Linked DNA regions of Homo sapiens: regions 2, 3, 4 and 5 are each reported to be linked to region 1. The links are microRNA targets in miRTarBase. Many come from high-throughput screens and were not tested one by one. Region 1 holds a microRNA gene; each other region holds the end of a gene's coding sequence.

Evidence for each region. The annotated mature microRNA hsa-miR-623 reads AUCCCUUGCAGGGGCUGUUGGGU and lies in region 1 at 4,039-4,061, opposite strand. An mRNA with a match to its seed (bases 2 to 7 or 8) in the 3' UTR can be bound and repressed. Matches are read on the target gene's strand: a 7mer-m8 pairs with bases 2 to 8, a 7mer-A1 pairs with bases 2 to 7 and ends in A, and an 8mer does both.
Region 2: the mRNA of STEAP4 is a reported target of hsa-miR-623. Seed matches in the 3' UTR shown: 7mer-A1 at 3,813-3,819.
Region 3: miRTarBase lists WWC2 as a target of hsa-miR-623. Seed matches in the 3' UTR shown: 7mer-A1 at 3,813-3,819.
Region 4: the mRNA of GALNT1 is a reported target of hsa-miR-623. The part of its 3' UTR that is shown has no 7-base or 8-base seed match.
Region 5: the mRNA of GP2 is a reported target of hsa-miR-623. Seed matches in the 3' UTR shown: 7mer-A1 at 5,751-5,757 and 7mer-m8 at 4,929-4,935.

Annotation. Positions count from the first base shown.
Region 1 is chr13:99,354,098-99,360,206 of GRCh38, reverse strand. It overlaps MIR623 (microRNA 623), which reads right to left and starts at 4,076; the gene lies at 3,979-4,076. All of the region lies in intron 7 of UBAC2 (UBA domain containing 2), which reads right to left. RefSeq lists an enhancer at 3,810-4,049.
Region 2 is chr7:88,275,111-88,281,219 of GRCh38, forward strand. It overlaps STEAP4 (STEAP4 metalloreductase), which reads right to left. Exons shown (of 5, transcript NM_024636.4): 4 at 5,805-5,969; 5 at 1-4,518. The coding sequence ends at 4,288. Among named protein-coding and RNA genes, the nearest start is that of STEAP4, 29 kb to the right of the region's middle.
Region 3 is chr4:183,313,017-183,319,125 of GRCh38, forward strand. It overlaps WWC2 (WW and C2 domain containing 2), which reads left to right. Exons shown (of 23, transcript NM_024949.6): 23 at 2,647-6,109. The coding sequence ends at 2,713. It overlaps CLDN22 (claudin 22), which reads right to left. Exons shown (of 1, transcript NM_001111319.3): 1 at 5,084-6,109. Among named protein-coding and RNA genes, the nearest start is that of CLDN22, 4.2 kb to the right of the region's middle.
Region 4 is chr18:35,706,871-35,712,979 of GRCh38, reverse strand. It overlaps GALNT1 (polypeptide N-acetylgalactosaminyltransferase 1), which reads right to left. Exons shown (of 12, transcript NM_020474.4): 12 at 1,146-3,356. The coding sequence ends at 3,210. LOC105372064 (a long non-coding RNA gene) reads left to right here. Exons shown (of 5, transcript XR_935377.3): 2 at 1-994. Among named protein-coding and RNA genes, the nearest start is that of MIR3975, 120 kb to the right of the region's middle.
Region 5 is chr16:20,305,333-20,311,441 of GRCh38, forward strand. It overlaps GP2 (glycoprotein 2), which reads right to left. Exons shown (of 11, transcript NM_001502.4): 11 at 4,242-5,949. The coding sequence ends at 5,891. Among named protein-coding and RNA genes, the nearest start is that of GP2, 19 kb to the right of the region's middle.

The DNA.
Region 1 (6,109 bases):
ATGGATGGAAGACCTGAACATATTTCCCAGGTGGCCAGTACCACTCTCAGCTCACTGCAGCCTGAGCTGACTGCTCGTACAAGTTGGTGCCCCATAAAAGAGTAAAATGGAGAACAATTACAGAGGGGGCATTATGAATGCGATGTTTTAGAAAAGCCAAAATGACTTCCAAAAGCATCTTCATCTTATTTTAAGACTGTTGGCCATTGGAAACAAATGCACCCTTTCTTCTCAGTCTTTGGTGCTCAGAAAGCCTTTATCAGCATGCCAGGTTTTGAAGTGTGAAGCACACAGCAGGGGCACCTCCAGTCTACAATCGGTGGCCCCCTGCAGGCCACCATGCAGGGAAGGTTCTGGGGGAGACCATGGGGTAGGCAGCGAAGGGCGATGTGACTCTTTAGGGGTGCTGTGCTTGGGCACACGGGAGGCGAGGCAGGGCCCACACAAGGACTTACTCAGTGTGCTATGGACCAAGGCTTTCAAATGTTTTCCACCTCATGGCACACACAGAAAAAGACAGATTTGCATGGTCCACAGGAAAAGCCAAAACTGTTTACAGCTGGCCCAGTGGCTTCAGGCCCTTTCCAGTTGCCCCCAAGCGGGGAGGGGACCAGTATCTCAGCCCATCTATGACCATGGCACAGTGGCTGGGAAGCTTTACCCCAGGCCATAAGGAAATACTTACACATTTAGGAAACAGGTTGATTTAACAGGAGTCTCTGACAAAGGGGATGACCTACCACGGAGATCAAGGGCAGAAAAAGACTAGATCGTTTTACTTGAATGAGTTAATGTAAAATCACAAAATTATCACATCTACTAATGTACCTGGTAATACTTTCAGCAACAAAAGTAGAAAGAGAATTAAGACAACCTCCCTGCCTTTTAGAAGCTCATAGTCTGGTATTTTAATAATGAAACACTTTTTCCTTTTTCTTCCAGGTTATCAAAGCACCCTTTGTTAGATCCAGTGGATCCTCCTGAGCGCTCTGTGACCTGCCTTCTGGCAGCACCAGGTCTTACTGACCACTCTTCCTCGACATTCTCTTCCCCAGGCTTTGTGGCATCCCGCTTTCTTTCTAGCCCTCTAGCTACGCCTTCTCAGTGTCCTCAGATTCTCCTCCTCCCACTCCTGTCCTTCAGACACGGGTGTTCTTGAAGGTTCCATGTGGGGAGTGTTTCTCTCCTTCTTCCGTGTTCTGGGTGCCCATCCATTCCTAGGGCTTCATGGGGTAGAGACTCCCAAACTCGAACCTCCAACCCAAACACTGTGTCTCAGAGCCATGTAACCCACTGTCTCCTGAACACACTTTCATCTAAATGTTAAGGAGACACCTAAGATAGAACACGTCCCAAACAAACTCATCTCCCACCCCATATCTCTTGCTGTGTCCCCTGTCTTGGGGTGTGACATCCACATCCATCCACTGCATAAACCAGATCTCTAGGCTCTGTCCACTGGAACTCCCCCGCCACTGTCTCCACCCTCACTCTCACTGCCCCGTGTGAGACCACAGTCCATGGCCGGGGTGGCTCCAGAGTTAGTTCCTAAGATACAAATCTCGTCAAGCCCCTCCTCTACTTAGAAACCCTTTGCTGGCTCCTCATTGCCCTTTTATTAATTTAAAAATATTTAATAACTCATTAACAATCACAAGCCTATTACTTGCTAACATAAATATAGATTTTTGAAATAAAAAATAACCATGTTTTCCCAAACAGAATTACTGAGAAGAGTGGCACTGTTTTCCATTTTTGCAAATCTCTTTAATGTCTGACTTACTAGAAGGTTGCTGGATTCTCCCATCTGCTTCTGCATTCGATTTTGTTCTGTTACTCTGGTTTTTGAAGTACATGAAGCAAATCCAGCCACATAGATACACAGTTAGAAAAGAAAGGGAGAGTACATTAAGGGCCTTTTCGGATGACTACAGACATCCTCCCCTTTGATGCTACTCAATGCATCCCTGTTGCTTTCAGAATCCGACAGAAATTTCTTACCTGGGCTTACCAGACTCCTGTCTGCCACTGGAGTCACTTTCTCACAACACCGCCCTCACATTCTCTACTCCTGCTGGGGAGCCTGCTCTCACCACCCTGTACTCCTCTGCGTGCTCTCACACCTCACCATCCCTTCCCCAGGACAGCTCTCAGCACATCCCATTTCACTTGCAGGCTAACCGGCCTGAATCTCACAACAGCCTATTAGCTCCACGGGGACTGTGATTCTCCATCTTGTCCTGTTTGTAGACCTGGCCTCCTGTACGACCTGGCATATGCAAGCACTCAAGAAACAGTTGCAAAATGGATAACTGAATGGACAAAGACATAGTGAGGCATATTGCTGAGTTAAGGCGTATGGGGTTTTCTTAGCCAAGACTGTAGTTAGTTGGGATATGAAGACCCAGGTGATGGGTTACTAATGAAGGCGGGGTGGAAGGGGTGAGAGGGGTTAAAGCAAGGAGGCTCCCAAAGGACATGCTTGATACCTACATTCTTCATGGACATAGCATCCTCTTCTAATACAAGAACCAGGAGTTACAAAGAAGCAATGCTGGGAAACTGGTGAAACCACAAATGGCAGCTCCTCATAGAAGACAGTTATTTGCAATTCCCTGTGCTCTGTGGAAGCTGCAGCTTTTGGTGTAAGTATGAATATGCTTACACTTAGTTTTACTCATTTGCCTTCTATGCGTAGTGCGCTGTCCTGGGGCCAGATAAGGAGGCTGTGACACAGAGAAATGACTAATTTCCTATGGCCCTGAAAAGAGTTTGGCTGAGATAACAAAACAAACGTACATTAAAAACTAAACAAGAAGCACTTCAGGACTGAACGAGAGGCATCTTGTTAGACTTAAAACTGTAGTCACGTGTCGCTTAACAACAGGGCTTCATTCTGAGAAATGTGCTGTTGGGTGACTTTGTTGCTGTGTACTTACAGAAACCTAGATGTGATCGCCTACTACACACCAAGGCTGCTTGGTGTAGCCTATGGCGACCAGGCTACAAACCTGTACAGCAAGTCACTGTGCTGAATACTGGAGGCAGCTGTAACACAATGGTAGTTGTGTATCTAAACATAGAAAAGACATAGCAAAAATATGGCATCATAATCTTATGAGACCACTGTCATACATGCAATCTGTCATTGACCAAAACATATTGTTATGTGGTGCATGACTACAAGAGTGAGCACAATACAGAGAGAAAAGACACCACAGAGGCTGCTGTCCTCAGCAAAAGCTTTGTGGCAAAACTGGGGAAAAACCAAACAAAGCCCAAAAAAAGAAAACCAAACAAAGCCCACCACCAGAACCACACACAAACTGGCAACACATTCACCACTTGGATAAGAGATGGGGCAACGCGAGGCCCAGAAGAAACCATGCTGCATATTTGAAAGCCTTGGTTCCTTGGTAAAGTCTTAAAAATAGGAACCTTAGAAAACTCAGAAGACTGAATCTAACCCTGTCATGTGAAGTGCCACCCATGATCTTTGTGTCGTGCTATAAAAACAGTGTATTGTATCTTTCTGTGCTGCTTAGCAGTAGTCTCAGTAGGTATTGGAAAAAATAATAAACTAGAGGGAAAGGAGATGATCGCTTGAACAAAGTCCCAGGCTAGTTTTGCAGCTCTCGGTTTCACTTTTCCTTTGTGGTTTCTCACAGTGACCAGTGTTGATGGATGAGATACTTCAAACAGTACTATTTCTTCTAGGCAGAACAGAAGGCAGTTTCCATGGCAATACGATCAGGAGACACAATACATCCTGTTGCTCAGTTTTGAGAACCTTTTGGCTTAGGGGACAGAAGTTTCCAACTATCGGCTGCCCTCTGCCCCGTCTCTTCTTCCTCTGTCTTGCTCTAGTCGGCTGGAGTCCCAAAGGCCACACGCCTTGCCTGTGCATTCCATGCAGGGGCTAAAAGGGTCAGGGCCACAGCTGGTGTTCCAGGGACTGATTGGGGATGGCAATGAGGACAGAAGGTGCAAAGACATCTACAGAGTACATCGGGAAGCTCCAGCACAGCTTAGGATGCAACCCAACAGCCCCTGCAAGGGATGCTTCTACTGTGTACAGTCTGACAGACATGTGTCCCAAGTCTTGTTTACTTTAATGACATTTCTTTTCAGAGGCCTGACATACCTAGCACAGCTGATCTTACTGTGACATAGGTACAATTTTACAAACAGGTTCAGTTGGTTTCAACAGCAGCTGCAAACCCAAGAGAGACAGGTTTTCCCTTTGTTTCAACAAAGCACGGCTCCCAGCCAGTTCCATCTGGGGAGGCCCTGGAGGTGCAGGGAAGGGACTCTGGAGAGAGCCATGGGATGCACATGGCTCAGCCATGCACCAGGGCGTCCAGTGGGTCTGTGCCGCCGCTGCCCTCCAGGCCCCCTGCACAGAGTGGGGTGAGACTCTGGGCAGCTGCGGGGGGGCTTGTGGCACCAAGCACGCTGCGGGCTGAGCCACAGGCCTGCGTCCTGGCTCTCGTTTGTTTTGAAAACGTGACTGACCCATCACTCCTCATGGGGAACTTTTCCTCCAGGGACCGTCAGGACCAGAGGTGTCCCAACCTTTTCCTGTGTTTTGGTTTGGTTTTGGTTTTGGTAGAGAATGAGAATGCTAAGGCTGCTCTGTGAGGAGGAGGTGGTGGTGAGAGGGTGGCGTGGGGGGACCACAGGGTTCCACAGCCCACAGCCCAGCTGCAGGTCAGGGACATCAGCGCAGGAAGAGCATGCCAAGGCCTTGTCTTGCAGCTTCCTCACTCCCTCGACTGAGTGACACACCTGTAAGCACTGAACGCTGGTGACGGTAAGGGCCACACAGCGAGGACTGAGACAGTGGCCTTGAAGACATAAGAATGGAAGTGCATCTCTCAGAGTGTGGATTATCCATTTCTGCATCGTATATTCTGTTTTCCCTTCCTTCATTCTTTTGTCTGCCAAATTTGGGGTCATTTTTTCCTTCCCAGCATTGGCTCTACACACAAATTATAAAGTAAAAGTCAAAATTAAAATTAGTTTTGGTACTTGTTACAGTAAATGTTTTGACAGAAACAGAGGTGAAACTCCTAATTAAAAATGAGACTGGGGATTACTCAAGGTTTCCCCTCTTCTTACATTTCCTCCGTGGAGAGTTCATCCATTTTCATGTCTTCAGTGACCACCTGAGTCTCATTCCCGCACTTGCCTATCTGCGTTCACCGTGGCAGGCGGATGTCCACTTCCCAGCTCATGTCTGGACTCAGCTCTCCTCTGTCCATCAAACCCAGCCAACGCTGAAGGACTACTGATTTTCCCCTGGGAGAGGATCTGCCCGTTTAGGTCCTTGCTGTTGCACTCCGAGATTATGCCAACAACTTCTTGGATGACATGACTGCCAGTAAGATTTCCCCAATCCAATCTGCATGCCACGGTCAGTGAGTGTGCACAAGAAGCCCTTTCACAATGACACTGCCTCAACCAAAAACCCTCGGGCATCCTGTCTGAGTCTGTCCTGTTTTGCAGGTCTGCCCAAACCAGCCCCATCGTAAATTACTTCTCTAAATTACATCCTAAATTACTATGTCGGCTCAAACTGTCCCTGCCACCTAAAGTGCCCTCCCTGGTCCCTTCCATTTGCATAGGGCCCAACTCCTGTTTCCCATCTGTAAGTGGCTTCTTTCTCTGCAACCCAAACCCTCCTGTTCCCCTGCTCTGCTGAACTTCCACAGAACTCAGCCAAGCCGCCAAGTGAACAGAGAATAAAACCCTGAGTCTGGGTTTCCCCAGCTGTAAAATGGAAAGCTGGACTAGATAGCCTTAAGCTAGTTATGAGCTGTCTCTTCCCAATCATTATATTAAAGAACATCTGGAAGGCCAAACAGTTCTCTCTCAAAAAGGAGCCTCAGGCCACCTGCCAGAGCCGCTGCAGGAGGAGCTCCTGGACAGATGCTGGGTTGACACCCCCATGTCACCCGGCTCACACTGCTCATGAATGTCACCTGTACAACCCCCTATCTCCAATAAGATATGAGCTCCTTGGGCAACTGTCCTGTGAGAGCCACAGTTGTGGACAGTGTCCACGTGAGGGAGCAGGTGCAGAGCAGTGAAGGGGGGTGCGGTGGCC
Region 2 (6,109 bases), not on the chromosome of region 1:
GACGGAGTTTCACTCTTGTCACCCAGGCTGGAGTGCAATGGCGCGATCTTGGCTCATTGTAACCTCTGCTTCCTGGGTCCAAGCACTTCTCCTGCCTCAGCCTCCAGAGTAGCTGGGATTACAGGCATGCGCCACCATGCTGGCTAATTTTTTATATTTTTAGTAGAGATGGGGTTTCACCATGTTGGCCAGGCTGGTCTCAAACTCCTGACCTCAGGTGATCCACCTGACTTGGCCTCCCAAAGTGCTGGGATTACAGGTGTGAGTCACTGCGCCCGGCCAGTCTCAGGCTTATTTTACTCAGCCTCTATTGAAGATGGAGTCACCTGGTCCAAATGCTTCTGATACATTGAAGAGTAACTTATACTCTTTTCCCAAATTCTACTGAACAAACCTTTAGAAGAGTGAAGGATTTTTCTAGAATGTAAACCTAATTCATTATAGAAAATTGAAGTAGGACCCTGTAAGGCTATCTGTGGGCTCTCATGGGGTGTGTGTGTGTGTGTGTGTGTGTGTGTGTGTGTGTTGGAGAAGTGGTAGTGAAGATGATGGTTGTGATGATGGAGAATGAAAATTGCAACTACTGTGTGCAGTACCATGACTGCCATTACACCTTAATTTTGGAACAGAGTTCCAGAAGCTTTTATGCTCTCAGAGGTGAAATGCATAATATGCATTTATCATTATCATGGCTCTTTTGTGATCCCTGAACAATAGATGAATGAAGAGCTCCTGAATGAATTTCTAATTGAAATGGCTTTTTCAGTAGGGGCTTTCCATTTGCTTCCAGCTTCCTCCAGGTTGTCAGTCCTCTCTTTATTTGTAAGTTTTAATACTATTTTTGAAAGCAGGATAACACCCATCAGAGCTGCAGCAGTCCAGTTGTGCAAGGCATTTAATGCCCAGTCACGCAGTCTGAATCCAACCTGAAGTCTGCTTGTCAAGCCATTAGCCTTATCCCTGTGGCGTCTGCATGGAGAAGGAAAGCCTTTTTTACCTCCAAATTCTCACAAAAATCCAGCGTGGGATAGTGCAGTCCTCCCCATTTAGCCATCTGATGCTCTCCCCTCTCTGAGGGTAATACTGAAGCACACACAGCATACTGGACTGTGCCACCCCGCTGAGCTCAAGCTTACATTGCAAGAAGCTGCAGATCTGTTAATGCACTTTCAAACCCATGCACTGCCTTCTCTTTTGCTTATCCCTGAAGGGAAGTATTTTTAGTCCCAGATGCTGGAACTACTGTGATTCAAAACCTTTTAGTAACTTTATTTGGAATGCTGATGAGTTAAAACCAGAATTAAACAAAACTAGGAAATATTTTTAAAGTAACATTTAATGAATACACATTTATAAAAGCCATCATCCCTTAACATGGGGAAAGTGTACAAAAATAATGTGAAAGTGTAAAAATTTTTCTAGAATACAGGAAACATATCAGCAGTAAAGAAGTTTAGTTTAACTTTTTTTTTAAATGTAAAATAGTTTGGATCTGTTAAAAGGAATACAGTTCGCCCAAAGCACTTATTTTCATCTGTTGTAAACTCATTCTTTCTACCTTAAGTAAACTGGAGGAGTCAGCTGTGTTAATATGGTCAAATTAATTTCATAGTTTTGGGAGCAGGGAGGTTGTGGGAAGGACAGAAGGAGAACTTGGGCTTTCTTTGGTCAGCTGGTGGGGCTTGGAGCACTTGTGGTTGGGGCCAAAGGTCAGGTCTGGAAATGCAGCTATTATGCCAAAACCATCAGAGTGCTCTTTAGCTTCAGGCTTCATGAATTGCTTTTAACTACTCAGGTAGAGCATTTTTACTAGGCTATAAAAGTAGAGTTCATTTTTTTCTATAGGTCAGCATTTTACCTATGGATGGCATTTTCTATTTTCGGTGACGGACTATGAGCCAGGATAAACACATTACTCTCTTCTTTAACAAAAAGAGCATGGTTAACTCCAAAGACTTCTCTAGACCAGCCTGGATGGTACCTAAACTTTAATCAACCAATGCTCAAGTAAAAGAGCAGTATCCAGCCCCAGCACACCTAACTGTTTTGCATAACATAGGTGAGTAGTGACATTTTCCTTATCTTTTCCACTGATACTGTAGGGTCAGCACCGTATACCATGACTCTACTCAATGTCGTCCAACTTTTTGTATCCTTGCTTGGGTTTATCAAAGATAAGTTGAAGGAGCGTGTGTTCTGTGTACCTTTGCAACCAGTTATAAATAAACGCAAATTGAAATAAAAAAGACAATCTACAATGGTGCGATGAAAGCAACACCCTCATCCAATGGTAATTAAATTGATAAGGTCACTTTAGAAATGGCTTGGCAACATTATCAGTGCAAAGATATTATCTGAAATGTTATTTATTTTAGTAAAAAATGGATATAGTCTACATGTTTAATAAGGAAAGAGGTTTGAAAAATGCCTATTTGATGTGATATTATGCAGCCATTAAGAAAATATATTACGTAAGGCCAGATTCATGCCTGTAATCCCAGTGCTTTGTGAGGCGGAGGCAGGCAGATCACTTGACGCCAGCATTTCAAGACCAGCCTGACCAATGTGGTGAAACCCTGTCTCTACTAAAAGTACAAAAATTAGCTGGGCATAGTGGCACATGCCTGTAGTCCCAGCTACTCGGGAGGCTGATGAACAAGAATCACTTGAACCTGGGAGGAGGAGGTTGCAGTGAGCTGAGATCGTGCCACTGCACTCCAGCCTGAGCGACAGAGCAAGACTGTCTCAAAAAAATAAAAAAGAAAAAAATAATAAAAAGGAAAACAAAGCCTTTAGAAAAACAAAGCCTTTGAAAAAGGATGTAAAATTGAATATATAGATACAATTATTTTTAAAAAGTTTTATAGAAAAATATCCTGGATTGTTGATGTTGTTTTAATATATTTTAATCATTTTTGTATAATGTCATGTATAATATGTTATAATGAAAGTAAAAAAAAAAAAAGGTCTTAGCAGAGCAGGCAGAAAAATGCCAAACTCAGTGCCTTTTAGTTATTTTGATATGTGGGAAGATCATGCATAAGGCTCCTTTTAGCTCATTGCTTGAGCTAGGAAGGTTAATCCCCCTGAAGGTCACCTTGGAAAGGGTACTATCAGCACAGAAAAACAGTGAGAACCATCCTAAATTTCAGCAAGGATTTGAGAAAGATCCAAATTTCACATAATGATGAATCTTCACACCTCTCTGCCCTATGATTTTCCGTAATTTTCGATCATCTATGCATTGTTCAAATTTATACCTGCAGACTATTCATTTAATTTTACTCCTTACAATTATAATAGACTAAGACAGATATAGAAGCTACTTATTTACACTAGAAATTAATTTAATAGATGAAAAATATTGAGCAATATTTGGAATATAAAATTTACAAAGCATATTATAATACCTAAATAATACTTAACCTAATATAGTGCAATTTTACAATATTTATTTAGCTTGCTGTCTAAAATTCTGGTTTCTTTGAACTTTTTGATCAAGAACTTTTATCAACCCTTCTTTGCTTATTGCACAATGCAAGTGAAATCCAAGGGGATATCCCTCCATTTTTATTCAGTCTTTCCTATACCTATTCTTTATAGAGGAAGAATTACATGCCAGCTCTATAGATACGTATGTATCCAAGACATGGATACTTTTAATCAATTGTAAATTTTTCTTGTGTTATAAAAATAGTTCCTCTCAGTAAATATCTGTATTAAGAAAAGCAAAGTCAAGGGGTCATTTCACTAGAATTCATCATGGTAATATTTATGTTTGCCTTTACTTCCAAAAAACAACAAAAACCTCATTCCCTTTTTACATTTCATGTGACCCACTTCCTCAGATATACCTAATAAAGCCTTTATCAGTGGTCACCATTGTGCTGTTTTTCCTTTCACTTAACTCAGCCCTTGAGCCAGAGAAGGAAGCTGCAATACTTCTATTGGATTTTGCAAGACATTAGGTCATGCATGTTGCCCATAACAAGGAAACTCTTTAGTGTGAAACCACAAGGCTAGTCTCAATCTCAGCTCCATGGCCTCTGGGAAAATAAGAGTCAGGGACCTGCACTGATTCTTCACTAACCTGAGATAAAATGGTGTTCTCTTCCAGTATGTCAGTCAATTTCTCAAAGACAAGCAATGTTTCCCTCAGTCACGGTGTAAGAAAAAAACTTTCCTAACTGTACCCATCATTCTTCTTTAAACATTCAAAACCATAGTTCAGAAATCCAGCTAAATTGAACTTTGTTTTAAATATTGATTTTCCATTCAATGCTTTTTCTAGTGTTTTGAGTTCCTTTCCCAGCCCTGGCGGATCCTTGTAAGGGTGTTGTCTACACATGGCATGATTAGGACAAACTTGATCACCAGCACAGTGCAAGGAATGATAAGCCCTAACACGTAGGCTGCAGGAAGATACCATCTGAGATTTGAAGGGCTGAGGAATCTCTTCCCACCGTACACCAGGGTGTGGGCTGTACACAAGATCAGGGTCAAATAACCCAGTTTGGACTATAAACAAGAAACAAAAATATGTAAGTTAACATTATTTACATCTTAAAGTGAAACACTCTAAGCCAGTGACAGATATTTGTCAACAACCACAAACATTTGAGACCTATAATGTTTAGGACACTTTGCCAAGTACTGAAAAAAAGCACTAACCCTTCTTCAGGATGGTAAATACTTCATTTAAAACAAGATTATTTCTTACAAATGACATAGTAGCTTCACCTTAACCTAGCTGGATGGAAAAGTTTCCCAGGAGTAAACTCTTCCAAGTTAGAATAAATAATGTAGCTTGTCTTGGTTCCCAAAGGTGAAACTCTTTTATTTATCATCTTTTCTAGAGGTCAGAGATGAATATGACACAGTATGACCTCAAGAAGCACCATCTTAGTATATGTTACTGACTAAAACCAGATCCTAGCTCATTTCTATCACAATAAAGAGCAATAGCCAATCTTGTTTCAGCCTACATTTTAAAGCTTATTGTTTATTTCTGCCTTAATACCTTGAACAAAACTGCTAATGAGAACATGTTGACTGCATTTGGTCCCTGGGAGAAATTGCAAGACTTAAGATTCCAATAGTTCTATAAAATTCTAACCTAATTTTAAAGACTAATGCTCTTTTCTATTATACTCATAATAAGCATGCATCAGAATCATCTTGAAGGCTCATTAAATTTCTGGGCCACAGGTTCAGAGTTTCTGATTCAGTAGGCCTGGGCATGGCCTGGGGCTTTGTGTATCTAACAAGTTTCCAGGTGATGCAGATGCTGCTGGTCCTGGTGCCATATTTTGAGGACCACTGGTCTACAAGAATGTGTAGTTACTAACTGCCTTTAAAGAGGGGTTGGTTGGTGCTTGACATGTGGAAGAAAACAATTTTCCCTCTTACAGAAGAGCATTAAGTCTTCCGGTGTGATGACATCTATCAAATCTTGCTGTGAAGATTTTAAACTTTATCTCAACATCTGGTTTTCCATATCTGTATGTCCATGTTGTAAGGTTAATTTTTTAGATGGTGAAATTTTGTCTTGGGGTTTCTTTTTGCCTTGTACCTAGTACATCTCCACACATAAATTGTAATAGTTCTTAGTATTTTTCACCCTATAGTCTTAGCTGTAGATATGGAGGCAGTCAGGAATCTTGGCGAGTATTAAGAAATCAAATCATTATGGATTCTGCCTTTTGTACCTGGGTTCAACATTTTCTAATTTGAATTTTTAAATATGATTGCTAGGGAAGTGATGGAGCAAAATGAAAAGTTAGGAATGAACTTGAAGTTCTTACCTGGACAAATCGGAACTCTCTCCAGTTGACTGCATTGCTAACAGATGGCAAAGAAGTGATTCCCAAGAGTACAAACAGAAAAAACCCAAGTATTCCCAAAGCCACATATGAATCACTGAGCCAGGCTGAGGAGGTGCTAAATGGATTCTCCTTCTTGAGTATTGCCTAAGAAAAATTATAAGCAATTACAAAACTACATTTTTACAAACTACATTTTACAAACTGCCCACACTTTGACAGTGGGCACAAATTATTTGCTCAAAGCAAATTGTATGGCATTTCTTAAAAATTATTTTAAAATAACT
Region 3 (6,109 bases), not on the chromosome of region 1:
TGCTGGGGCTGCGGGCACCAGCAGAGGAGATTATAAGAGAACCCATCATGGAAGGATGGCTGCAAGCTCCTTAGGCACCTAGGGGTGGCAGTTTTGAGTGGGACATTGAGGCGGGAAGAACAGCATGGACAGAGGCACAGACCTTAGAAGTCAGTGCCAAGCTCTGGCGCATGGGGAGTTGCCAGCTGGTGAGCCTGCCCAGGAGAACTGGGCTCAAGTTGCACAGGCCTTGGAAGCTGTGCAGAAGGCTTCCACCCGTGGTCTCTGACGGGCGGCCAGCAGGGCTCTCCGTGCACAAAACCAAATGATGGGGATGGGTTTTATGTAGGGCAGATATCAGAGGCATTGTGGAGAGTGGGCTGGGGAGAAGCGGGTAAGGGTGGCCAGTTAGGTTCATGGGAGGTTTGTGGGGGGCAGTGGCTGCCCTGTGGTGCCAGCGCTCGAGATGGAGAATGCTGGGGAGCAGGGGTGTGGGGAGGATGCTGACCTCTGCCATGGCACACCAGGCAATGCCAGCAGGCTAGTGAGATAACCATGACCAGTAGACAAGTGGAAATAAAAATCTAAAGCCAGGGTTAGGGGTCAGGATGGAGATTAAAAAATGGGAGTGCTCATCTTCAATGCATTGGTCTCATCTGTGGAAATGGGCCAGACATCCCAGAAAATGTGAGGTGACTGGGAAAGGAGGCTGGTGGGCACCAATCACTGAAGGGCTCGCCCCAAAAGAGATGCTAGAAAGAATGGCTGGAGAGGTCAGAGGAGAACCAGGAGCCTGGGGCAAGAGGGTGGGAAGAGGAGATTGATGGAGAGAACTGAAAAGTACATCCGGGATCCCTGGTGAGCACACTAGATGGTTTCAGCCCCGACGGAGGGAGCTCAGCAAAAAGGTTTGTTCCTATTGCGTTTTTATTTGGTTTTGGTTGAGGTTTTGTATAGACGAGTCTTTGGAAAGTGTTTAGGCATAAAGGGGAGAAGCCCAGAAGAAGCGAGTGTTTTTGAAGTGTGGGGAAGCTAGGTCACGTGGTGGAGCAGGGACAGCTATGGCAGGCTGAGGTCTGGTACCAAGCGGGAGGGCAGGGCCACGGACCGTGTGGCAGCAGCAGTGTGCCTTAGTGGGCTCACAGCTCTTTCATTTTTCTGCAACACCCTGCAGTAGAGAGGTTTTTCCACCCTCTTTTCTGCTAAAGAATCACATTTGTGACTTTCAGGGACTACCACTACTTGGGTTTTAGAACTGCAGGTGAGGGGAGCCCATCCATGTCCCTGGTGCTGTGGTCACTTAGAGAATAAGCAGCATTGTCTAGCGTGGAAAGTCACACAACTCGCAGTTGTTGCCGAAACCTGAAGCAAAGAATCCACGAACATTCCCAGCTTCCCTTAAGATACGAAGCATATTATATCACCAGGGAAGTGACGAGAATGATGAGATGGACCAGGGTGAGACAGAACATGCTGGAAGCGTGGGATTTGCACGGCTACCGTTGCCTGGCCTGGGGTGGTGAGATCAGGCAGCGGTGGGGCCTGGGCCGTTCTGCCCGGCACCACCCCAGCTGCTTGTTTCACCTGGAATCAGGAGCCCGATGGTCCCTGGCCTTCTAATTTTTCAAGAGAAGTTAGAAATCAACAGTTTTCTGTGAAATATCTCAAATGCAGGTGCCGGCAACTACTTCAGGTATTTTTAAACACCCCAGTTAGCAGCTGCGCCTTAAGGCCTCCGCTGACATCACACCTACACTCGTGGCATTTTTTGTTCTTGTTTTCCTCTTATGAATTGAACAAATTTAAAGGACACTGTTCACAGCAGTAGCTCGTTCCAGTGTCCATAGTGTTCTCACTCCTCCTTTTCTTCTCTATCCTTTCTTAGTCTTCAGAACATCCCCACCTCAGCTCTGGTTTCTAACCCGCACCTCCTCCCCCATCTGGACTGTTCTTTCGCAAGGGAGAACCAGTGCTTGATTCTTCAGCTACCAGCATGCCCCTTGCATGTAATATGCCCTCAAGAAATACGTGCTGACGGCATAAATGCCATGTACAGTGTGAAGTTCTGTAGGGAAATAGACGCACTGTTTGTCTTTTTTTTAAGCACTCTCCTCACCTGAAAACCGCTCTGCCCTGTCTCAGCCTCTCCGCTGCTTCGGGACCAGGGCAGTTACTACCTTGCAGATAGTTCCTCCTTCTCCTTTCATTTGCGTCGTGGTGTCGCTCATCAGGTTGTCCCTGCCCCGGCATGGTATCGATGTAAAGACTTTTCCTGTTATTGTGTGCTTTTCTGTGAGGTTACTGAGAAGTTTCCAGGTAGGATTTTGGGCCTTTTGAGTCTTCTGCTACCTAGTTCGGAAACACCCATCCTAGACCAAACCCCTACTAGTTTAAAAACTGTCTTCTGTTGGAAGTTCCCTGAAGGGAACTTACGGGCTTGGTCTGTAGGTGACTTCCGTGATCCAGAGCTGCTGTTCTCCTTGATACCCCCCCTTTAAGCAGGCAGAGGCTCTCCTGATTTTAAATGGAGTTCTGCGTAAGGAAAAGAGCTTCTACCTGTGCTTGCAGAGACATCACTGCCACTGCAGGTCTTGGGGACTGTTTTAATGGTCCCAGAGTATTTTTAGCATCATATATAAGTCAATTTATTTCTCACCCCAACTCTAGGGAGAAGATTGCCTACTTCACCAGAGCAAAGATAAGCATCCCATCCCTGCCAGCTGATGATGTGTGATTACATGACTTAAGAAATTATTTTTTCATCTGTTCACTTTCTTAGGGAGGGTAAAAGACTGAAGATTTGTGTTTTTGTTTTGGTGTTTGGTTTTTTTTGGTAACGTAACTGTCAACTCTTGAAGAACTTTTATTTCACATCAGATTTTCAACACATTAATTTGTAAAGTACCTTGAGTGTAATTTTTATATGCTTAAAAAAGAAAAAATCATATAAGAAAGATGGGATAACCTGGTACACAAATGTTGCCCAGTATGTGCGCATTGCCAGTGGACTTCATTTTGTAAAAATGGAATAGAGGCAGTACCCCACATGTGTACTGTTGAGCCGGCTGTTGAGAAACAACTTGGTTCAGCCGGTGGTTTTGCTTCTCCTTTGTGTTCCTGTGAGTAGGCTGTGCCGATGGCAGCAGCGCCACGTGGTATCTGTGCGCTGGCGAGGAGAGGAGCGCTTTCCATTTGGAGGCAGTGTGAGCACACGCTGGAGTGCAGCGTTCCAAAGTCCGCCCGAAATGGATGCTGCGTCCACGGCCATCACCTGTGCGGGAACACCTGGTTTCCTTAAGACAATTTCCTTTTTGTCCTTTTATATTTTTCTAAAGAAAACTAAGATATAAACTACCAAGTGCTCTTAAGAATAAAAATAAGAATAAGAATACAAAGGAGCACTACTCTTGGCTACACGAAAGATCTTGGGATTCATGACACTGAGGGCAGGGAGAAGAAAGAACACCAGCCACGCAGAGATACAAATAAGCTCATCAAATGAGCAGCTGGTTTGTCTCACTCAGCCTGAATTTGCATTAAGTGTTCAAAAGTGAGTTTCTGGCTTGCACTAGTGTTTTGCCCTAAATCTAAGGATGGTGCCTAGTGGTGGCCCTGTGTTCTGAGGACAGAGAGAGCTGGAGGGGTGGAGGGAAATGCATCGGCACTCATTTGGTGTAACCAAGAAGAGGGGGAAAGATGTCTTGATAGAATCAAAGTTGCCAAAAACAAAGAAGAGTTTATCAAGCAGATTTCTAACATTTAGTAGAAACTACTTCATAGCTCTCATTTTTAGGGGGTTCTATCTATAATTTATGGTAAATAGTTGGGAGGCAAAGGGAAGAATGTGTGTGGGGGGATTATTAATTTGAAGTATAAGCTAAATTGTTTATTAAAAAGCCTATTTTGGATGAACAAGTTTAGAGAGATAAACTGACTAATGTGTCCTCCAGTTTAGAATTTCACCTTACCCGACCCAGGCACTTCTTAAAAACACAGATCCTCAGTGCAGCTCTGCCAGCATCAAGGCTTTTAAAATATGTAGTATTTAGGCCATTTAAACCATACTTATTACTCAATAACCCAAGAAACAATTTTGGGTTAGCCATCTAATATAGCAAATAAAATAGATTTTTTAAAGAAATCCAAAATTGTCTTAAAGGAATGGACCCCTTGAAGAAAAAAAAAAAAAGTTTTGTTCCTCAGTTAGAATGCTCACTAGCTCACTAGCAAGAATTTTTATTTTCTTGAAAGCAATTATATATATTTTGGAAAGTTCATGTTATTGGAATTGAAGTTCAAATTAAGCAACTTCTGAGCCTAGAACTTTAATTACTTTTTCCTAAATGTCCCAACACTTACATACAAATTTCTTTGAAGACATAACTGGACATGGCAGACACTGCTTTGAACAAAAACCAGCCTAGTGAATTGACTGAGTACAGTCCTTTAAGGCTGCCCAGTTCATTCTATTAGATGACTAAGGAAAACTAGAAAAAGAATACAGTTCACCCTTGTCAAGGTCAAATGTGAAAGACAGAAGTTTATTTAATGTAGAGGTAAATGAAGGTGAGCTGTTTTCAGCATCTTAGTTTGACCATGAAAATGTCTATAGAATTATGTGTAGTTGTTCCGTACGATTTTATTTTCTTCATTTATTTATTTACAGTCTTATTTATGTTCTGTTTAATATATAGTTTGATTCTGGCCATTTTAAATATTTGACACAGAAGAGACTATATTGGAATATTTACAGCTTTATAAGTCTTTCATCAGATTAGCTGTTGACTTTTTGTAATACAAAAAGTTTCAGACAAGTATTAAAGAATAAAATCTGTCTCAGGCTGGTAGTTAGCAGTTGTGACCAAGATGCTTTTGGTTGTTGTATTTCACAAAATTTCCTCATTTCTAACATGAGAGATGAACTTATTTTAATATAATCCTTTTTCTACACTTTAAAAGTCAGCAATAGTGTTATGTATTTATAGGCAGCTTTTAATAATCTTGTCATATTTGTACTAACCCAAATGATTCACAGTGACAAAACATTTTAATAACTTGATCACAAAACCATATGGACAAATATGAATTTTAATATTATAAATACTATTTTTAAAAGGTAGAATTTATTCGCACAGGGTAAAAAGAATGTAATATTTAGTTCTCAAGTTTGAATTATCAGTATATTATTACAATTTTGTATATCAGAATCTTAAGTGTTACAGGTACAAAAAGAATATTGCTAGCCAAATGAACAAAGTTTAGCTAAATCTCTGTAGCATGCAAATCAAATAAATTAAAATTTTTTGCTATTGCTTTATCTATATTGTCTTAAATATCAAAAGCTCAGGACTGAACTTAATATTTAATCAGGTTAAATTCTGAACATGTTTCTGTTTTAATTTGTCTTGTTTGTAAACGTATGCAAATACATCACATAGATTAACTGGTTTCTGCACTTTCCATGTGTTTGTGGGTGGAAAAAAATTCAGTGGTTTTTTTTAAAAAAAAAAGCAAAAACAAAGCTACATATTGCCTAATACTCTATTTCAGTGTCGTTTATTGTTCAGTTTATTTCCCTGATTGGCACAAACACAAGAGTTTCCTTGAACCATGTACCAAGCAAATACAAAATATTTCATGAAGAAATCCCCAGGCTGGCAGTTTGTGATGAATAGTTCTTGTTGGAACTATATGTATTGCTGATAAAAAAGGACGAAGTATTTTCATTGAGCAAATAAAATGAAGGGCTCCAGAATATGTGCTCTGTGGTCGCTGCGCCTGGGCTGGCAGTGTGCTCCACAGAGAGGCAGCCGTCCCAGGAGGTTATCTACCCACACACCCCAGTCCTGCCCTGCCGTGCCCCCCACAGGCTGCTCAGTGCCTGGGAAGCCAGAAACGCTGCCCGTGAAATACAGAACACAGGATGCAGAAGCACGTTTGTGTGGCAGAGTCTACTTGAATCATCCAAAACCCAAGATCGCCCTCCTGCCTCTGACAGTATAGAAGGCGTGACTGAATGTGGCTGCCTTTTGAAAAAGGTTCCATAGAGACACTGAGGTCTCTGATTCAGAAGGAGATGATGTGTCTACACCTTTCACCTCTGAAGCTTCTAAAGAGCTAGTAATTATTT
Region 4 (6,109 bases), not on the chromosome of region 1:
TTTCTACAAGATGGCCTTGTGGGATTTTGATCTCATTGAATCTAGATAACAATTTGTGGGGAACTGACATCTTACCATTATGCAGTCTTTCAATCCATGAGCATAGAATAGCCATTTATTTTGGTGCTCTATAATTCTTCCCAGCACTGTTTTGTAGTTTTCAGAGTAGAGGTCTTGTTGTTAACTTTCTTCCTACTTAGAAGTTTGACTTATTTGATGCTATTACAAATGGCATATTTTAACGTTATATTTTCAAGTGTTTGTTGCTAGGATATAGATACACAACTGAATTTCATATATTTGCCTCATATTCTGCAAAATTATCAGTCCTGGTAGATTATCAAGCAAATGCTTGGCAATCTTCAGGAAATCAGAGAATGGAGAAAATGTCATCTAATTAGAAACAGATCTAATTTTCCAAATGGCTTAAAAAGTGACTCATTCTTTGTATACAACCCCTCACAGTTATGACCTCAGAAACACTACCTTCTAAGTTTCTTTTTTCTTTGAAGAACAGGTAACTATAGAGTTAAATTTGCTCTTGGTATACTTCTTGGAAGATGAGAAGAGCATCAAATCCTTACAAAGAGGAACCTCTGTTTCTCAGCTAAATGTAGAATGGGAGCAATGAGGACATGGCCTGCACGATGTCCTCCATCTGCAGAATGGATGAATATTCCCAATGTTCAATGGCAGCACTATTTCTCAAGAATGCCAATGAAGATAGATATATTAAAATAGACCTTGACTGGGGTGGGGTGAATAGATTTGTGAGATTCAAATTATCCTTAATTGTCACATTTATGAATTCTTCACTGGTTAAATAATAATCCCACTTTTTCATCCTTCATTTTTTCTTTTTTTTTAAGATACATGGTTTCTTCTCTGTTGCCCAGGCTGGAGTGCAGTGGCACCATCATAGCTCACTGCAACCTCAAACTCCTGCCCTCAAGTGGTCCTATCGTCTCACCTTCCCAAAATGCTAAAATTACAGGTATGAGCCAGTACCCAGCCATTGTTTTCTTTTTCATTCTTTTCTTCCCAATTTGAGTTATAATAGAGTGATAAGCATCTGCCTAATTACAAGTAATTATGATAAACAGGGATCCACTCTAACTTCAAATAAAACCAATGTAAGGCACAACTATTCAGGAATATTTTGTATTTTCAAAGTATTTAGGAATTCTTTAATTAGAAAAATAAAGGCAATGGGATTATCTATCAGGTTCTAAAAGTACCCATGAATTAAATCACTTACATCTCCCATTTAAAACAAAACCTTAAATCACATTGCTGTTAAGCTTTCATACAGTAAGAAATAAGACCAAGCTATGCTGGAGTACAAAAACCTGAAATTCTGAGCATGAAAATAATTTATTGATTAGACATCTTGCTTATTCAAGCATTAGGCCTACTGGAGATAGAATTAACACAGCTCATGGAAAAGGAAAAAAATTCCATTCAGCACCTGCTTCCTTTCAAATTTCCTGGGGACATGGTTTATGCATTTTGTACTATAGACTCACCCTAAAGCATCCCCATGTGCTTGATGTTGATTAACTTGAACAGGATATGAGAAACTTTGTGTACACTCAACTTGGCAAATATCATTAGCGATGCGACTTTTGGAAACATTCTTAGGCACAAGAAATAGCACTGCCTGCAGTGAAAGTCCTTGATAATCAAAGAAAAGAATTCCATTAAATATAATTTTACAAATATGAAAGAAAATATATGCATTTTTGCCAACAGACTGCTCTACATATCAGGAAAAATGTCTTAATGAGATTCCTCCTACGAGATTAAAAGGTTACCTTTTAATTGACAACTTTCAATTGACACTCAGGTGATTCTGTGGTATTAAAAAAAATCAGAGAAAAATAAAACTGATTTAGCCTAAATAAGATTTAGGAAAAGAAATGCAAGCCTATTAATATGGAATAATAGCTGCACTTCTTTGGCTAAGTCATTAAAAAATGCCAATTAAACATTTTCAGTCAAATTTTATTTAAAAAAAGCAGCAGATAAACATTACAATTCAATAATCTAATCTAAATATGCATTTGACAATGAAGCATATCTGAGTATGGAGTGAAAAAGGTTTTCCAAAAAACCATCAAATGTATTATCTCCAAATACCCAAATAATAAATCACTTCTGCAGGCCTTTTGTTAAGTGGAATCATAAACAAAGAACTGAAGATTTATTGCTGTGAAAACAAATCTGTGGTACAGTAGCATGAATCTTGGGTATTTCGCATAATCAGTTAGGTCAAGTGAAGAAGTCGAAAATGTGATAAGAAATTTGTGTGTGTGTGCACATGTAAATCTGTAAGCCAGTTGACCCAAGAGCAACTGAAACATCTAATTTGTTCAGCTGAGATCAGACATTGTTAAATTTCCATTTTTTAGAAGGCAATTAAAAATTACAATTCCAACAGCCCACAAACCAAACAAAAAAAACTGTAGAGAGAAATTAAAACTATATTCAAAGAGCCTTTTTTTTTCAGCTCAATTTCAGCACCCCAAGGAAAATAAAAGCATCCATGACTATCACAGATGAAAACAAAATGAATGTCATTGGAATCAGTTATTTTTCCCCACTGAGGTATAAAATCTATATAGAAATTTGATACTATACTATAACAAATTGTACTTCTCATAGTTCTGTTTTAATTTCCTTTAAACCCTGTTTAATATAGTTTTTTTGTTGTTGTAAAAATGTTGTTTTCATGATTCTGAATCTGGTTCCAGTTCTTTTATTTTTATATCAATATTTAATATACTGGCTACCAGTTCTAATCAGGAAAAAAAATCTTGGAAATCTCTTCATTATGACAGCACGTTCAGCAGAAACTACTGATGTGCAAGCAAACCATAAAAGGTACAGTTCTCCAGAAAGCATATTTTGTTGATTTTTTTTCATTGTCTCAGTATTCTTTACCATGATTTTCGGAGAAAGACTCTTTCAATCTTGTAAACATCAGTGTGCACAGTCTCATTACTATGCAGTTTCACGTCCATGGACAGGAAGGCTGGTTCACAGCTAGTGAAAAGCTAGAGAAGTCTAAGTTTTAATGGCTGATAAACCTTACATCCTGCAGAGGAGGAAAGCACTTTTCCTTTTTTGCTACTTAAGAATGTGGCAGAAATGTATGCTGAGGTAGCCCAGTCAATCCTTATTTTTTTCGTTTTTTTGTAAATTTGGTCTCAGAATATTTCTGGCAGGGTGACGTTTCGAAGAAGCCACTGCTGGGACCGACTTCCATTGCAGTCTCTAATGCTGGGCACCTGGCTATCCTCTTCTGTGGCTTTATCCAGGCACTGATTACTGTTCACATGCTGCAGGGTTAATTTCTGAAATAGAAAAAATCTTAACATGAGAGTGGAAGAAAACAAAACACCTCAAGCATCAGTTTTGGTGATTAAGTTCCTCTGCAGAAAAGGTGTTTTTTTTGGTAATATACATTATTTAAAAGACAACGGAGAAAAGGTAGGTAGGTGGATGGATGGAGAAACAGAGAGAGAGAGAGAGAGAGAGAGAAGTAGGTAGATATGTAGGTCGATAAAGAGGTATGAGGGAGGGAGAAAGGCACTGGGGTCCAGTAGGGTACACTTGACTTGCTGCAAGATGACCTAAATTCTAAGTCCTAATTCTGGCATAAGCTCTGTAACACTATGAGAAGCTTCTCTTTTTTGTGCTTCAGTTTCCTAAACAACAAAAAAAGACCAGATTAGTGGTTCCTAATTTAGGATCCTCAACCTATTTTCAAACAGCTATTTCAAAATTGTTTCATTTCTCTATGATAAGGCTGTTCAAGTTAATTCTGTGATTCCAAAGCTCAAGTTTTTAGAAACTCAGGTCTTTCTGATAACTCAAAATCATAAGAATGTTGGGACAGCTGATATTTAGTAAAATCAATCTTATGCCTATGTCCATAGCAAACCCAGAGGCTATCCTGGTGGTTAAAGGAGATGGTGTGGTACAGAAAGAAAAGCACAGGAATGTGGAGTTGAGTTCACAGCCTGGGTAACTTGAGGTTTCTCATTTTAAAAATTAGGATCACATTACATATTTTGAGCAGATTTTGGGAAACTACATAGATAATGAAGATAAAGTACATAGTGCCTCACCTACAAAAGAGATTCTTAATAAATGGTTAACAGACATAGCTATATATTTTATCCACTTATTTAAGTTCTAGATTTGATGCAGCAACATGTTATTAGGATAATTTTGAAAGGGCAGGGCAGGTAAGAATTAACAGATAGATAGTTAACAATGATCCACACCAATGATTGTGATAATATGCTCTGGTCATGTTAAGGACTTCAAAGTAGTTGTATACAGGAATGTGCATTAAGCATTACTCTACAAATGTAAATTAACTCGAAGGAAATGTAAAATGTTTAACACATAGTTATCTGATTCTTTTACTCATGGCTCTATTTTAATGTAGTTCTTTTATCTGAAACATTTCATTTTCATGAGGCCTTTTTTGCACCTATTAGAACTTAAAACAAAATCTAATAATTGTATACAACTACTTAGGCTTCCAGTCATTTATTATTCTTCCGTGTTGTGGTCAAAGTAGGACCTGGCAGATGACAGTCTATCTTTGCAGATGTCACTACTGATACTGTCTTTAGGTTCAGGATTCTATCTTTAATGCTTCCAAATATAAGACTAGAACCTAGAAGAGAGTCAGCATGGCTGTGGGAATTTTTTTTTCTTTTTTTAATGCAGACTTTGTGTAGTTTATTGAGAGGAGGGGCTTTGCAGTCAGACATTCCTGGGGTGATTTCCAGATTTGTCACACACCAACTATATGCTTCTGAGCAAAAACCTAAACTCTTTGAGACCCAGTTTCCTCATCTATAAAATGGGGACAAAAATACCTCACCGGGTTTTTATGAGGAAACACTGAGATAATGTACATAAAGTGCTGCCTATCCCAGAGTAAATGCTTGATAAATGGTACAATGACATTTACATACAATGGTAATTTGCATTTATAGAGTAATGCTTATTATTGGAAAACACAACATCCTGGCAACGTCCTGAGCAGTCATGGACACAATCCAGCAGCCAGAGCGCTGCGGCTCAGCGTGCACATTGCTGCCAGTGGCTTCAGTCTCAGGAAAGACCAGAACAAGAGAACCTCTCAAACATTCCGGGAGTTCCCGCAAAGCTTATCCCAGTGGCCTCCCTCATCAGGCCCATGGTCACTATTACTAAAAACAAAAAACCCCCAACTAGGCACAACAAAAAATTTAGTTGGGAGAGTTGGTCTCTCTTAACCTAGTTTCTAAAAATGTGCATTTCACTCATCTAGATTCATTAAAATAAACCCATCACAAACACATAGGTTATTGCTCTGTGCTGAGTATTTAACTATTCGACATCAGGACAGAATCCCCATAACTTGGAAGGTGAGCAGCACCCCCAGGAAGCCTAGACTCTGGTGGAGAACCCTGTTCCAGATACAACTCTGGCTGCTGACAGCAGGCACAGAGCCTTGTGGCTTGGAACCTTGTGGGTAGGATGCTGTCATCACAGCACTCCTCAGAGGACTCAGGCAACACCAACTAGTCTCCATTCAGAGAGAGCTGGACTAAGGCATCAGGACAAGCAAGTGACAAGCATCTAACCGTAACCTTTGAAGGAGAGGATAAAAGCTATAATTAATCATTTAGTAAAGTCTACCTGCATCCTAGAAAAAATAATTTGCCAAGCTCCTACTCCTAATTTCTAGATGTAACTAGGTCTAAAATCTGCATTTTATTCCAGAAAGGACAGATACAAGTAGTCAAAGCAAAAGAGCCCAGTGCCTTATTGTAAATTTTATGTAATATGTAATACAAGCAAGACTCAAAACTATTAATCAAAAATAGCGTGGTACTGTGCAAAGAAACCTGGATCGAGAATCTAGAATTCCAGATTTGAGATCTAGTCATACTATCTGGCTGCTCAGAGACCTTGGGCAATTAATTTCCTTGGGAAATTAATTCTGAGTTTCAATTTCTACTTGTATAAAAAGTATCCTGGGTTTAATTTCTAGGGTTGCTTTGAAATCTAAGAATTCATGATTTTAGATTACAGATAATGG
Region 5 (6,109 bases), not on the chromosome of region 1:
TTGTGTGTTTGCAAGTCCCTCTCTGAGACTTTCTAAAATTTGATTGTTAATTGGCTGTTATATGCATGAAGTTCTGGACTTGGTGTCCCAAGCTCTTTATAGATTTACTTTTTTTCTCCCCCTCCTGCCATTAAATAATCACCCTTGAGCTTCTCTCAACTTACTCTCCATCAATAACCATTGTATTCGTTCCATTACAGCCCTCCTAAATACAAAACAATGACGACAACAACAAACCATTCAAACTTCCAACCAACTTCCCCTGAAGGCACAGAAGGTGAGACCTAAGGGAAAAGAAATCCACCCTCTTTAACATCAGCTAACAGCATAGGAGTAAATGCCTGGTACAGAGCCCAGAATTCCTATTTCACATTCTGATTTGGCACTTTCACCATAATGGGAAAATCTCCTCTACTTTTCCTGTGAAGCTGTTTCTTCTCCTTCTGGAAGATAACAGCAGGATGATAGAGGAGGTCAAAGGATAAAGAGAAAGGATGCAGCCTATTTCTTCATTTATTTGACCAATAATGTTTGAAAATGATGAAGTCCTTGTCCTCAAGAAACTAACAGCCTGGGGTGAAGGGTGCAGGTGGGACAGATGTAAAAACAATTTCAGATGCAGACGCTACATGTGATTATCAAAGTCTGTAGAGTGGCTCATGCCTGTAATCCCAGCACTTTAGGAGGCTAAGGCAGGCAGATCACCTGAGGTCAGGAGTTCGAGACCAGCCTGGCCAACATGGTAAAACCCCATCTTTACTAAAAATACAAAAAAATAGCCAGGCGTGGTGGCAGTCACCTGTAATCCCAGCTACTCGGGAGGCTGAGGCAGGAGAATCACTTGAACCGGAGAGGCAGAGGTTGTGGTGAGCTGAGATCGCGCCACTGCACTCCAGCCTGGGCAACAAGAGTGAGACTTCATCTCAAAAAAAAAAAAAAAAAAAAAAAAGTCTGTAAAGAAGAGGTCATAAAGTAGGGTAGTAGTTTTTTAAAATATATATCTTCCTTTTCTCTACTTATCATGCTCATGCTTTTCTCTACTTTCTTGAAAAAAATGGAATGTATTTTTTAAACTGTGTTGACTTTCTGGTCTGCTGATTATATTATTTGTCGTTTGTGGGTCTATTTTCTATTGATTGATTTGCCTACTCTACACTGGACAGGGGGATCCAGGAAGCCTTCATAGGAGAAATAACCCCAATAAGGGGAAGTGTCCTCCAGGCAGCAAAACAGCACACGAGAGTAGGGTAGAGTGCAATAGAACAGCTCAGGGAGCCTGAGAAATTCCGTGGCACTGGAAGCTGGGTTATGAAGGGGATATGTTTAAGGGCTAAGTCTGGAGAGGCAGGCAATGGCTCAGATGGTGAAGAATGTGATCTGTCAGGTAAGCAGGCAGAACTCATCCTATAGAAGGTAAAGAGCCTCTGGAGCGATCTAAAGGAGAAAGTGTCTTTTGTTTTAAATGCTCACTAGCTGCAGAGTAGAGAATGGATTGAGAGAGGTGAGCCTGAAGAAAGGCCACTTAAGAAGCTATTATGGTGGTTAAGGTGAGAGATGAAAGTAGCCCGGAAAAGATCAGATTCAATGGGGTTGAAGAAAAGTGGATGAATTTGATAGACTTTTAGAAGGGAGAATCTAATATGATAGAAAATATGAGGGTGATTTCTGGCCCTTCACAGGAGAAAGAGGCTGAAAGAGAGGAACGGAGTGAGGAGAGATTATGAAATGAGTTAGGATGGGTGGGGTGTATCCTCTGGGGTTCCCATGCCAAATTTCCTTCAGGTGACCAGTTTTACCTTTCTCCCTGCCACCTTCATCCCTGCCTGGTCATTAAGGATGGACATGCCACTTGTCTTTGCTGGACCTTAATTTCCATCCATGAAATGAAGGGACTGGGATTGAGCCCTTCCCTCTTCTCCCAGGCTGGGCTGAGCTCTCCCTTCTCTGAGTCTTGCAGTATCTGTCTCAGTCTTACACTACTAAGCTTTTGCTGCCCAGTATCTGCATTCTGTTTCCCCAAGAAGAGTTGAAGTTCTTGGAGGGGAGGGCACCTTAAGCCACTCGGTATCCTCTACCAGCTGCTTGCAAAGGCTTCTTCAAACCTGAGAGGCCAGTCTTCCTGGGTATGGAAGACTAGTCTTCAGGTTGCTTCTGGCTATCCCCAACATCCTTACTCTCCAGAACTTTCAGATGCTGGGTCCAGGGCCCATTTCACTGAGCCCTCTGCAGCTGGAATTTATCTTGCCCCAGAGCCCAGCTGAACAGCACTGGGGGTGGGAGATGTAAGCTGATGGGAGAGAAACATGGCAGGAATCCTGGTTCTAGGAGAGTTGGATCCAGATCCTGTGTCTCGTAGGGATGTATGTGTGTGTTTATGTGTATATGTATGCGTGCATGTGCAGACATATGTGTGTGCACGTATGACACATTGGAGTGTCTCTGTGGGTTTTTTTTCTGTATTAAGTTATATGTGAAGTTCCATTGGTGTGTCTGCACTAAATCATGATGCATAAGTCAGCGCACACATCTCAACATCTATACGCCCATGACTATTAATGCCTGTGTATGTGTGAGGGCCTTTGCTGGAAAATGCATGTGTCTGTCCACATACCTGTTTGCAAGTGGGTGCATATATGTTATACACATATACGTTTGTGTGTATATGGGTGCCGCACTGTGTGTGTGTGTGTTTATGTGTGTGTGTGTGTTAAGTGTTATATATAAATGGAGGCAGGATACAGAGTCTAGTTTAGAGCATTTGCTTCAACGTCTGGCTACCTGGGTTCAAGCCCTGAAATCAGCATTTAAAAGCTATAGGCCTTTGAGTAATTATCTTTTTAAAGCACCGGTTTACTCGTCACTAAATTGAAGGTAATAATAGTGGCTACCTTCAATGTCTAATGTGAGGGTGGAATGATATAATGCCCAAAATGCACTTAAAATAATGCCTTATACGTAGGGGGTGTTAAAAAATATTGGTTGTTACAAAGTAATTCATGACAATAAATATGTAAGTGGCTGACTTGAGGGTCTCTGAGGCTTTCTGCATGTGCATCTGTGCCTTTGGGCACGTGAGGTTGATATGTGTGTCTGTTAGAATGTGTGTGTTGGTGTGGATAGACGCCTCTGGGTATACAGGCCTGTGTGGGGGGCTAAGTGGGCATGTGTGTTTGTGGTTTGCCTGTGAGTGCCTCTATGTGAGTTTGTGTTCTGCCAGGATTGGGAACATTCCTAGGGAAGGGATTGTGTCTAATTAATTATTGTACCCAGGCCCTTGGACCCGGGACATAAAAACTGCTAAGCAAATTTGTGTTGACTGAATGAATGAATGAAGTGGACTGGACATTCAGAGATTGTTATTCAGACAACATGCCCATTTGTAGAAAACAAAAAGGTGTAAATAGCTAGCTAGCTAGATGATAATTGAGTAGGGAGGTATGTAGACGATAGGTAGATAGGAGGTAGATGATGATAGATAGATAGATACATACATACATAGATAGATACATAGATAGATACATGGATAGATAGATGACAGGTAGCTAGACAGATAGACAGCTGAGATTGGCTCTAAGTGGAATCCTATGTACTTTCTCCTGGAAGTTATATTAGAGTTCATATGTCTCAGGGTGCTCCAAAACATCGGCTCTGGCAGCTCTGTGAGTTATTATGGAGTTGCTTTGAGGGCCTTCAGAGGAAGGAATCACAGAATGGGAGAGCTAAGCTCCCCACCTGACATCAACAAGAATCTATTTGCTTTTAATCTCTGGTTGTCCAAGTCGAATTGTAAAGTTTCACTACTATAAATTTTTGAAAATCTTGTTACAGACCAACCCCTTTTATTCTACAGAAGGGAGCAGCTGAGCCTCAGAGAGGGGAGAAGGTTAGAACCTGACCTCTCTTTCAGGCCTGTTTCTACCATGCCACCTGCCTTGGGATGTAGTAAGTATGACTCCGCTAACTCACTGGGAAACAGAATGCAATTCTTCTCAGGAACCCGTCTTTTAGAGAAGCCACTATCATAGTGGCCCTTGGGATGTCTGTCCAAGAAATGACCCCATTTGTGTCAGACCTGCCCCATTAGGTCAGCCCCTTTGGCTATGTGCTAGATGGTCCCAGTCCCCTGGCCCAGACTACTGGACCCTGACCCAAGCAGCAAAATCAAATTCCCTGATGCAATTTGGAGGTGGGATAGCAACATGCTAACCAGTCTCTGTTGGTCCCTGAATTAGGAAGTGATGTGAAGCTAGAATGTCCATATTTAATCAAGGGATGAGTGAACAGGAAAAGCTGGCTTCAGAGACATAAAAAGAAAACAAAAGCGATGCAAAAATACACAGTCATAAAAGGCTATGTGGCTTCAGAAAGAGGAACAGAAGGCAAGACAAACTTTGGTTTCTTTTGGCTTGCCAGGCCCCACTCCCGGAGCTTGTGCAGCCTGGATGTATCTCTTGCACTGGAACTTTGTGCTCTTATGTCCTTATAATTAACTCCCTTTTTGCCTGAGAAATTGTGGTGGGTTTCTGTTTCTTGCAACTACACCATCTCTGAACAAGGCAGCACATTGGAACGTCTCCTCCAAGCAGATACACAGGCTCGGCACCTGCTGGTCCACCTTGGTTCCTGATGTGTCTCTGAGGCCAACTTTGCGAGGCCTTATCTGTAGCTGTGGGAAGGGCGTAAGTCAGTGTACACATGTCAGCATCTATATGCCCGTGAGTATTAATGCCTGTGTATGTGTGATGCCCTATTTGCTGCATCTGTGTCGGGTGCTTTGAAGTACTCATTAAAGGTCTCCAGAAAGGGACTTCACCCATCTCCTAGGCTTTGCAGTTTCATTCCCATAGCAGGACTGGTGCATTGCTTCTGTTGGGACTTCTTGCTTAATCCTTCAGAGCAAGCACAGCACTGTTTACAGTGAGAGGTACTCCCTTGGGTGATGGAGTTTCTGCATCAAATTAAGTCATTCCTCCAGCATCTAGGTCCCAAGGATGTTTGTGTAGTTCTCTAAGTCACAGCATGTCTGTGGTATGGTGGGGGATAGGGGAGCTATGGGGACTAGTTCTTCCTGGAGCAGAGTCTCCAAAAGTGGCCCTTTGACATGTTCCCATGGCAATTTTTGGAAACCATGATAGAAACAATCAGAGGAAGCAGAGTGAACACAAGGGTCAGTTTCTTCAATTCATGAGCAGTCAGAACAGGAGATGCTTAGGAAGGAATCGTGGCTGGTGCCTCTTCTCCATGCTCATCCCATACCCCAGTGACAGGATACCGCTTCCCTGAAGTTAAAAACATGCACCACACTTCCGGTAAAGGCTGGAGCCACAGAGGGCACCTAGCAAGCTTGCTTTCAAGGTCCCATCAACAAATGAGAAGGGCAGCCGAGGACAGATTGACAGAAACCCCACTATGTTGCTTTTCTTTTTTTTTTTTTTTTTTCCTGAGACAGAGTCTTGCTCTGTTGCCCAGGCTGGAGTGCAATGGCACAATCTCAACTCACTGCAACCTCCACCCCCTGAGTTCGAGCAATTCTCCTGCCTTGGCCTCCCGAGTAGCTGGGATTACAGGCGCCTGCCACCATGCCTGGCTAATTTTTGTATTTTTAGTAGAGACGGAGTTTCAGCATTTTGGCCAGGCTGATTTTGAACTGCTGACCTCAGGTGATCCACCTGCCTCAGCCTCCCAAAATGCTGGGATTACAGGCATGAGCCACTGCGCCCAGCCGAGAGTTTTAAAGAAGGTGAAAGCTCTTCCCTTTTCCTAACCTAGCTTGGCCTTGATTCTATTAATACCAAGCCTGTGTGAATTGGAGTGGAAAGCAGAAGTGCTGAAGGGAGCCATTGCCAGAGGGAAGAACACAAACTTCAAGGCCAGATGCTCAGCGGAGCTCTCAGAACAGCCAAGCCAGGAGGACAGTCAGGAGGACCATAGGCCAGGCCACCAGGAACCCTGAAATACAAGAAATATGACTGTCAAGTGTTGGGCTTTGGGAGTCAGGAGCAAACATAAGTTGGCCTCTTTGTCTTTCACAACACAAGGATGAGAAAGGCAAAGCATCTTTGATATCTGGCCTAGTTATAGTCTCTGGGACTCACATGGTAGAGGCAAT